Regions from separate parts of the Homo sapiens genome. Here regions 1 and 2 are each linked to region 3. The links come from fine-mapping of genetic effects on gene expression. A gene starts in region 3. Each other region holds a variant in brackets. All regions are shown on one strand. Distances are from middle to middle. Region 1 has its middle 24 kb from the start of NUP42. Region 2 holds the start of LOC101927890 (a long non-coding RNA gene). Region 3 holds the start of NUP42 (nucleoporin 42).

Region 1 (2,761 bases), 24 kb before region 3:
TCAACAGGTGATTGGGCCATTCCCCCACCAAACATTTCATATGAATTGTAACAAAAAGATATTTACAAAAGGTTATTTTTTTCTACATATATCAGGCACTTCAGAATATCTAAAAAGAATAGACATTTCAAAAAAGCTTAGCATTGTCAACCATATACACAGTAGTGAGGAATGAAATGCACACAAAACAATGGAGAGAATATGAAAATGTCTTCTAAATATGACCAGTCTGGCACAGAAGCTTCTTCTCTTCCTTCTCAGGTCTTCCAGCTCCATGTCCTCTAAACCACTTAACAAACGTGGACGTCTCGCTTCCAGAGGCCGTGTTAACAACTCCATTTCCAAAAGTCGTCTCCAGAAGACATTTATTTTCTATGATTTCTTTTAAGCAAATGAGAATTTACAAGATGTGTGATTTTCTAACTTTATCATACATCAGCAACCTCTTTCCATCTAGCTCATAGAAGGGCTAGATGTGGCAAATGTTTTCTATTAAAAGGTTTGGGTAGTGTTGAGAGCAGCTGTTTCATATTAAATACACAGGCCTTCCATAAACGGCCAGTAAATCTTCCCAAAGGGTGGTGGGCATTTCCAAGAGGCCAGACGTGGCTTGTCATTCCACCATTTCTCTCTTCCGACAGCAAGCTCTGGTAGAACGAGACCAACCGCCCGAAGGCCGCTAACTGTTCCACCCGTCATCGTTCGGGACTTCGCTCACCTCCCAAGCCCGTTAAGGCCTTTGTCCGTTGTCCTGAGGACTCGGCAGGTCTCGTCCAGTGGGAACAGAGCGGTCACCCGGGCCCGGACTCGCGCGGCTCCGTGGCCTAAAGAGGCGGCCGAGCTTGCCTGCGTCGCGAGACCGCCTTCCCGGGCCCTGCACACCCTAACGGTCTCCGCCGCGCGGTGTTGGGGCGGCCGCCATGCTTCCCGGCCCGCCTCTCCCGCCGCCACCCGGAGACACTGCGTCTCGGCGGCTCGGCGGGGTTTCGTCGAGGCCGGGCAGGATCCGGCGGCGGGGTCTGGGCAGGGAGAGCCGCCGCCAACAGTCACCGAGGTGGGGTGGGGAAGAGAGGTTCGCCGCGGCTTCGAGGCCTGCGCCCGGCCAGTGGGCAGCCACAGCGGGGCCCCCCGTGTCTGCAGGGCAGAGGGCGCAGCCAGTCCGGGGCCCCCTAGCTCATCTCCCCATCTCACCCGCCGGCCTGGAGGGCCGTGGGGGAGCGCGCCGCGCTCTGCGTCTCTTCGAGCTCTTTCTGCCGGGCCGGAATGCAGGAGTCACAAATTGATTCAAATAGGTTTACAAATTTAAAAAAGAAGCTTGACAACCACTTAACCTGTTAAAGGATACTACAGGAGTGGCAGAGAATTCCTCAATTCTTCTGCTTCTGTGCTGCCAGGGCTAAAAGCTGCTTGCATTGTAAATAACCAGGAAAAAGGAACAGATTTCCAGGTGGTTGATGATGTGTGGTTGAGAAAAGAGCCTCAAGGTAACTACTTAATATGTTGATTCTAGATTATTTTCCTCGTCCAGTGTAATTAGAGAAACAAACACACAACTAGTGAATCAAA[G/C]ATTTTTATTTTGTTCCACAAATGTGTACCTTTTATATTTCGTTAGTCTGATAGCAAAAATTACATTTTCCACCTCTACAGTCAGTTCTCTAGTTTTACTCCTGTGCTTCAGTGTTTGAATGACAAGCCTCATCAGCATGACATATTTAATCCAACAGGCTTGGACACCATTTGGCAAACCAGTGGATTCACAGTGATCACTGCAGAAATCTGAAAGTGACTTGATAATACACAATTTAGGGTGGGGAAAAAGGCATTTTCCCCCTAAATCAAATATTTAAAAGTTTGCAGACTTATTTCAAGCATGTGGGAAAGTATAGAAAACAACAGCGTATTACTATGTACTACTCATCACCCAGTGTCAATTAAAAAAAAATTTTTTTTTGAGACAGCGACTCACTCTGTCATGCAGGCTGGAGTGCAGTGGTGTGATCATGGCTCACTGCAGCCTTGACCTCCTGGGCCAAAATGATCCTCCTGCCTCAGCCTCCCAAGTAGCTGGGACTACAGGTTTGTGCCATCATGCCCAGCTCTGTCAAATTTTATGCTTCTCATATTAAGCTTTTTTTTTTTTTTAAGTCACATATAAAGCTCCCTGTCTGTGCCTTTCAGATCCCATTTCTTTTTTTCTTTCCCTAGGTAAACACTGTTCTGAATTTGGTGCTTGTATTAGTCCATTCTCACACTGCTAATAAAGACTGGGTGATTTATAAAGAAAAGAGGTTTAATTGACTCACAGTTTTGCATGGCTGGGGAGGCCTCAGAAAACTTAACAATCATGGCAGAAGGAGACGCAAACACATCCTTCTTCACATGGCGGCAGCAGAGAGAATAAGAGCCCAGGAAAGGGGGAAGCCCCTAAACCATCAGATCTCATGAGAACTCACTATCGTGGGAACAGAATGAGGGAAACCAGCTCCATGATTCAATTGTCTCCACGTGGTCCTGCCCTTGACACATGGGGATTATTACAATTCAAGATGAGATTTTGGGTGGGGACACAGCCAACTCATATCAGTGCTTATTATCCACATGCTATTATTCCTGTGTTTATGAATCCATACATAATACTACAGTATTGTTTTGCTCTTTTGTACTTTAAATGGTATATCATACATACTATTCTGTACCTTCCCCCTTTTTGGTGGTTGTTTATACAAGTAACTTGAGTCATTATACAGTTATATTCCATTAT
Region 2 (2,761 bases), 32 kb before region 3:
AGGTTGCAGTGAGCCGAGATCGCGCCATTGCACTCCAGCCTGGGCAACAAGAGTGAAACTCCATCTCAAAAAAAAAAAAAAAAAAAAAGAAAAAAAGAAAAAATGCTGGCTGTTGTATCATGTTCTGTATTTATTTTATAAATAGTACTTGTTCGTTCAGTTTACCAACCGCCAGTAAAATAAAGTTTTATTCATAAAATAACAGTAAATGTTGTGGCCTGAGGGAAACTGTACTCCAAAGTGGGCTGGAAGGAATCCCTGTGGCGTTAAGAATGCTGATGGAGAAGGGTGGGGAACCTGACAGAAGAAGCTGGAGAGAATATTTTCAGGCTGTGTTTTCACACCATGCTGGGCACACAGGGAGAAGGGGGAAGAGAACCTCTATGTAAGGTTTGGAAAATGGGGTTGGTGGTGTTTTGTCATGGCACAACTCAAGATAGAAAGGCAAAAGAGAAAAAAATTAGAAAAATAATTTTTCTGCAAGATCAATAAAAAGCTTATTTATCAGCAACAAAACAAGGATAGGAGGTATAGCCAGGCTTTACCTGGAGACCTGGGTGGTGTTAGAGCTGAGCTCTAGGGCTAGCCCAGAGAAGTTTGTAAAATGATGCTAATTAGTTAATTGGGCACGAGAAGCAGAAAGGACACATGACAGATTTCTGAGAGATACTGCATTTAGTCAGCTAGAAGCTCTAATTCATGGCTTCAGGGTGAAGATTTGGTGAGATAAGGGCATTGTGGGAAGGCAGGACCATTCAGCACAAAGCTAGGAGCCAAGGGGAGAGCTGAAGAAGCCAGGCAGGTATCTGGGGCCTCACCCCCGCGGCGATGGAGGTGGGGGCTGAGGCGGCAGCTTTCTCTGGCTTGAATCATAGCAGCCTACAGAAAATGGCAAAAGAAGGGAAATTGGAAATTTCAAGGGTTTGCCAGTTCTTTGTGAACTGTTATGGTGGAAGCAGGGGCTACAGGGTAGAGCTAAGAGAGTGCTGCGCCTGCCCCAGGAACAGGAGAGGCCCCCTGCCCCCACCAGGAATGTCAGGGGACCATCAGGTGATGGTCAAGCGGTTGTTAAGCTGTCTCTCTAAAATAATAATTGGTCGCAGTGCCAGGGAAAGG[T/C]TGTCTCCCAATAAATAGAAACATCTGAAATTGGTGATTAGCAACTTACGAATAAGATATCAGGAGTTGGGTGAGTGGACTCAAGCATGCCCACTAAGAGGCAAAATGGCGTAGTTTAACTGGTTTAGCTTCCTCTGGTAGCACTGCGCTGGTAAGGGAAGAACGCCTCAAGTGAGCATGCGTACAACCTCAGTAAACATACTGCGCATGCTTCCCCCCGCCCAGGTGCTGGCCGACCACCACGCATGCGGACAGCCCAACCTAAGGGAAGGATCAGGGGAGAAGAGATGCAACCCCCAGAAGCATACCAACATATAAAACCCCAAGTCAAAGGTCAAACAGCACACTTGACTCTCTCAAGTTGTCCGCTTGGCCCTCTTCCAAGTGTACTTCACTTTCTTTCATTCCCGCCATAAAACTTTTTAATAAACTTTCACTACTGTTGTAAAACTTGCCTTGGTCTCTCACTCTACCTTATGCCCCCTTGGTCGAATTCTTTCTTCTGAGGAGGCAAGAACTGAGGTTGTTGCAGACCTGTATGGATTCACTGCTGGTAACAACTTGACAATTAAAAAATAAATTTAGGGGCAGGGCATGGTGGCTCACACCGGTAATCCCTCACGCCGGTAATGTCAGCACTTTAGGAGGCCAAGGCAGGCAGATCACTTGAGGTCAGGAGTTCAGGACCAGCCTGGCCAACATGGCAAAACTCGGTCTCTACTAAGAGTACAAAAATTAGCCGGGCGTGGTGGCATACACCTATAGTCCCAGCTACTCGGGAGGTTGAGGCAGGAGAATGGCTTGAACCTGGGAGAAGGAGGTTGCAGTGAGCTGAGATTGTGCCACTGTACTCCAGCCTGGGTGACAGAGACTGTATTTCAAAAAACTAATAAATAAATAAATATAGGCCTGGTGTGGTGGCTCATGCCTGTAATCTCAGCACTTTGGGAGGATGAAATGGGAGGAATGCTTGATGCTAGGAGTTCAAGACCAGCTTGGGCAACAAAACAAGATCCTATCTCTAAAAACAAAATTTTAAACATTTAGAGGACGCTTCAAAGAGCCCCTTTGTCCACAGTTGAACTACATTTGGTGAACTGAAGACAGGGAAGAAAGAGTCTAGACATTACGGCCTCCATGGTCCCCTCCCCCTCCTCTTCCTCATAGTGATCACACGAACCTAACAATGTGACATGTTCGTGGTGTGATGGAAAGTTCTTTAAAGCACAATTCAGCAGTCATGTGCTTGAGGGTGGCAAATAAAGAACTTGTATGTGTGTATGTGTGTGCAAGAAAGAAAGTTCATCCTGACATTAATTGTGTTAGTAAATTGCTAGAAAAACCCAAGTGTCCATCATTAAGGGAGAAGTTAAATTCATTATAAGACAGTTAGGCACTGGGATACTATTCAGCTGTTAAAACGAGCAAGGTAGATCTCTGTATCACGGTTGGATCAGGATATCAGAAGAGCCTCTGTGTATTCCATTTAGGAGACTTTTACTGTAGGGAGTTATTGGAAAGGCTGAAAGAGTGGAGGTCAGGGAAGCTGCTGCTGGTGACCTCAGCCTGAAGGACCAATGTGAGAGGTTCACACAGGTTATAGAAGTGAACTGGGGCCTGCTCCTCCAGTGCAGTAAAACCAGAT
Region 3 (2,761 bases):
GCAAGACTCCGTCTCAAAATAAAATAAAAAAATAAAGGTCAGATGAATAGCCCTAAAGGAGGGGAAGGAAGGGAGACAGCACCGAATTATTAACCCGATCTTTAAAAATCTTGTGTTGTTCTAAGGTTTCATGTCTAATCTCTCCTTTCCTTGAAGATAAAAAGCTTTGACAATGATCTAGGCCCAGGGACTAGATCAACGTGGCCCCCGCATCTCCTTTCCTCACCTCCCGGATAGCCCTTAACTGGGCGTCCCACATTCCCAATTTCACCCCAAATTTATGAGCAGGTGCATTTTTGCGGTATGGCTCTATAGGTTTTATTAGATTTTCTTTTTTTCTTTTCTTTCTTTCTTTTTTTTTTTTTGATAGTCTCGCTCTGTCGCCCAGGCTGGAGTGCAGTGGCACGATCTCGGCCCACTGCAACCTCCACCTCCCGGGTTCAAGCGATTCTCCTGTCTCAGCCTCATGAGTAGCTGGGATTACAGGCGCGCGCCACCACGCCCGGCTATTTTTTTTTTTTTTTTTTTTTTTGGTATTTTTAGTAAAGACGGTGTTTCACTATGTTGGTCAGGCTGGTCTCAAACTCCTGACCTCGTGATCCGCCCGCCTCGGCCTCCCAAAGTGCTGGGATTACAGGCGTGAGCCACCGCCCGGCCGGTTTTATTAGATTTTTTCAAAGAAGTCCACGACTTCTCCAAAATGAAGTCCTGATTCTGACCCAAGCTGCTAGCCTCACCCTCGAAAAAACAACTTAGTAAAAATTATATTCAATTCCGGCATTTACCTACAAGGTAGTTTCGATAGGTACTTCCGATTTAAAAACTCAGTTTCGCACAAGCATCCAGGCCCAAACCCAGGTCCTCAGAAGCTCAATAAAAACGGACCACATGAATAATATGTAGATAAAACCCTCGGTTTAAAAACGTTGTGCAGGGCCCAGTAGGGCCGGCAAGGCCGCGACGCGGGCACGTTGGGGTCACCAGCAGCGGGAAACACGCGGGACGCCCGGTCCCCGCCGGCGGACCCTTCCCGGCTCGGTTACCGCGGAGGATTCAGAGGAGAGTCACCTGAAGGCTGCTGCTGCGGTTGCTGCCGTCCTCCTCCTGCACCCCTAGCACCGGGATGTTCGTTCCAGCACCGATCTCCAAAGCGGCACCGGCCTTGAAGGAAGAATTGACAAATGGCCATTGCGACGGCGTCGCTGACGGAGGGCGTCTTCAGTCTGCACCGTTCGATGCCTGTTACTGGGCAGAGAGCCCTAAGGCAACCTCGGCGCCCGGCCGGGCTACTGTGACGTCATCTTCTCGCGCCTGGGAAGGCCTTTTTCCGCCTCTCACCCGGCAGTGCCATGAGACGCATGGACTTGAGCCAATAGGACTTGAGAAGAGCGGACCGCTCTGACGCTTTGAGTGTGTCCTGGGAAGGAGGGATGCTTGAACGGTTACGTGAAGACCGGAGGCGCGTTTGACCCCGGTGCAGGGCCTCGGACTACAGGAAGGCTGGAGGTCCAAAATGAGAGGAAAGCGGAGCAAGCAAACGCAGAACTTCAGCAAGGCCCTCAGAGGAGAATTAGCTATGATTTGAGAGACTGAGTCGTTCTTGCTGAGACGGTAAAACTTAGCTTGGGCTGAGAAAGTAACAAACTGCCTAGCCTTTCATCTGGATGGATAACAGAGTCAAATAAAGCCAGACGACGTTAAGAGGAAACAATGTTTCTTTTAGGACATGCTGCAACGGAAAAGTATTACCACTTAAGTACATTCTTACTACACACTGAGAAACCTTGTTATTTCTTCTTTTTTTTTTTTTTTTTTGAGACGGAGTCTCGCTCTGTCGCCCAGGCTGGAGTACAGTGGCAGAGCTTGGAGGCAAGCTCTGCCTCCAAGGTTCATGCCGTTCTCGTGCCTCAGCCTCCCGAGTAGCTGGGACTACAGGTGCCCGCCACCACGCCCGGCTAATTTTTTTGTATTTTTAGTAGACACGGTTTCACCGTGTTAGCCAGGATGGTCTCTATTTTCTGACCTCGTGATCCGCCCGCGTCCGCCTCCCAAAGTGCTGCGATTACAGGTGTGAGCCACCGCGTCTGGCCGAAACCTTGTTCTTTCAAGTCCACATAAACGTTGCTATTTGAAATTATATCAGAACGAGTGAAAAGTCCCATCCTTGCCTGGAGGATCTAAGTCTCTTTGACGCAGAGAAGCAGCCTCAATTTCTATCCAGGTGTAGAGCTTCAGATAAACGGTTCTGAAAACATTCTGTATTTTCTTAACTTTGCAGTTTCCAAGGAAACATGCCCTACATTCAATTCTCGTCCAGACCTGATGTTAATGCCTTTACACACAGCTATGCTTTGAGATTTCATTTAAATTTCACCTAAACTTCACTCTCCCCGCCAAAACATACAATAACTACCTTTTATTTTGTACGGTGAGACACACCACAGCTCCTCTGGTGTGCAGTCTTCTTGATTGCAATAAGTCAATAGATCTGACTTTGTTGGATTACAGGTTTGTGCTGGTGGTTTTAGGATTATTGAGCTGGGAGTGAGCCATCATTCTTGCTCATGTAATTTGTTTGGATTTTGAAGACAGCAGAATCTACAGGACGGGAACTACTTGTCCAAACTAGTTTTTTATTTTCTTTAATCAATGCAATTCATTTATTTTGAAACAAATTTATGGAAAAGTTACAAATAACAGTACAAAGAACTTTTTTCCTGAACCATTTGAGACTATGTTGCAGACCTAATGCCCCATGATC

Evidence for each region. PIP is the estimated chance that this variant, and not a neighbour inherited with it, causes the effect. A credible set is the group of variants that fine-mapping cannot tell apart.
Region 1: its variant is the best candidate, but not a certain one, in a credible set for the expression of NUP42 in whole blood (INTERVAL, PIP 0.63).
Region 2: its variant is the best candidate, but not a certain one, in a credible set for the expression of NUP42 in whole blood (TOPMed, PIP 0.83).

The regions. Positions count from the first base shown.
Region 1 is chr7:23,204,438-23,207,198 of GRCh38, reverse strand. No RefSeq gene overlaps it. Among named protein-coding and RNA genes, the nearest start is that of NUP42, 24 kb to the right of the region's middle. RefSeq lists an enhancer at 706-765 and a silencer at 956-1,235. The variant G/C (reference allele first, on the strand shown) is at 1,567.
Region 2 is chr7:23,212,575-23,215,335 of GRCh38, reverse strand. LOC101927890 (a long non-coding RNA gene) reads right to left here and starts at 1,261. Exons shown (of 2, transcript XR_242147.3): 1 at 1,166-1,261. The variant T/C (reference allele first, on the strand shown) is at 1,117.
Region 3 is chr7:23,180,514-23,183,274 of GRCh38, reverse strand. NUP42 (nucleoporin 42) reads right to left here and starts at 1,227. Exons shown (of 7, transcript NM_007342.3): 1 at 1,069-1,227. The coding sequence starts at 1,189. RefSeq lists enhancers at 863-932, 1,033-1,632.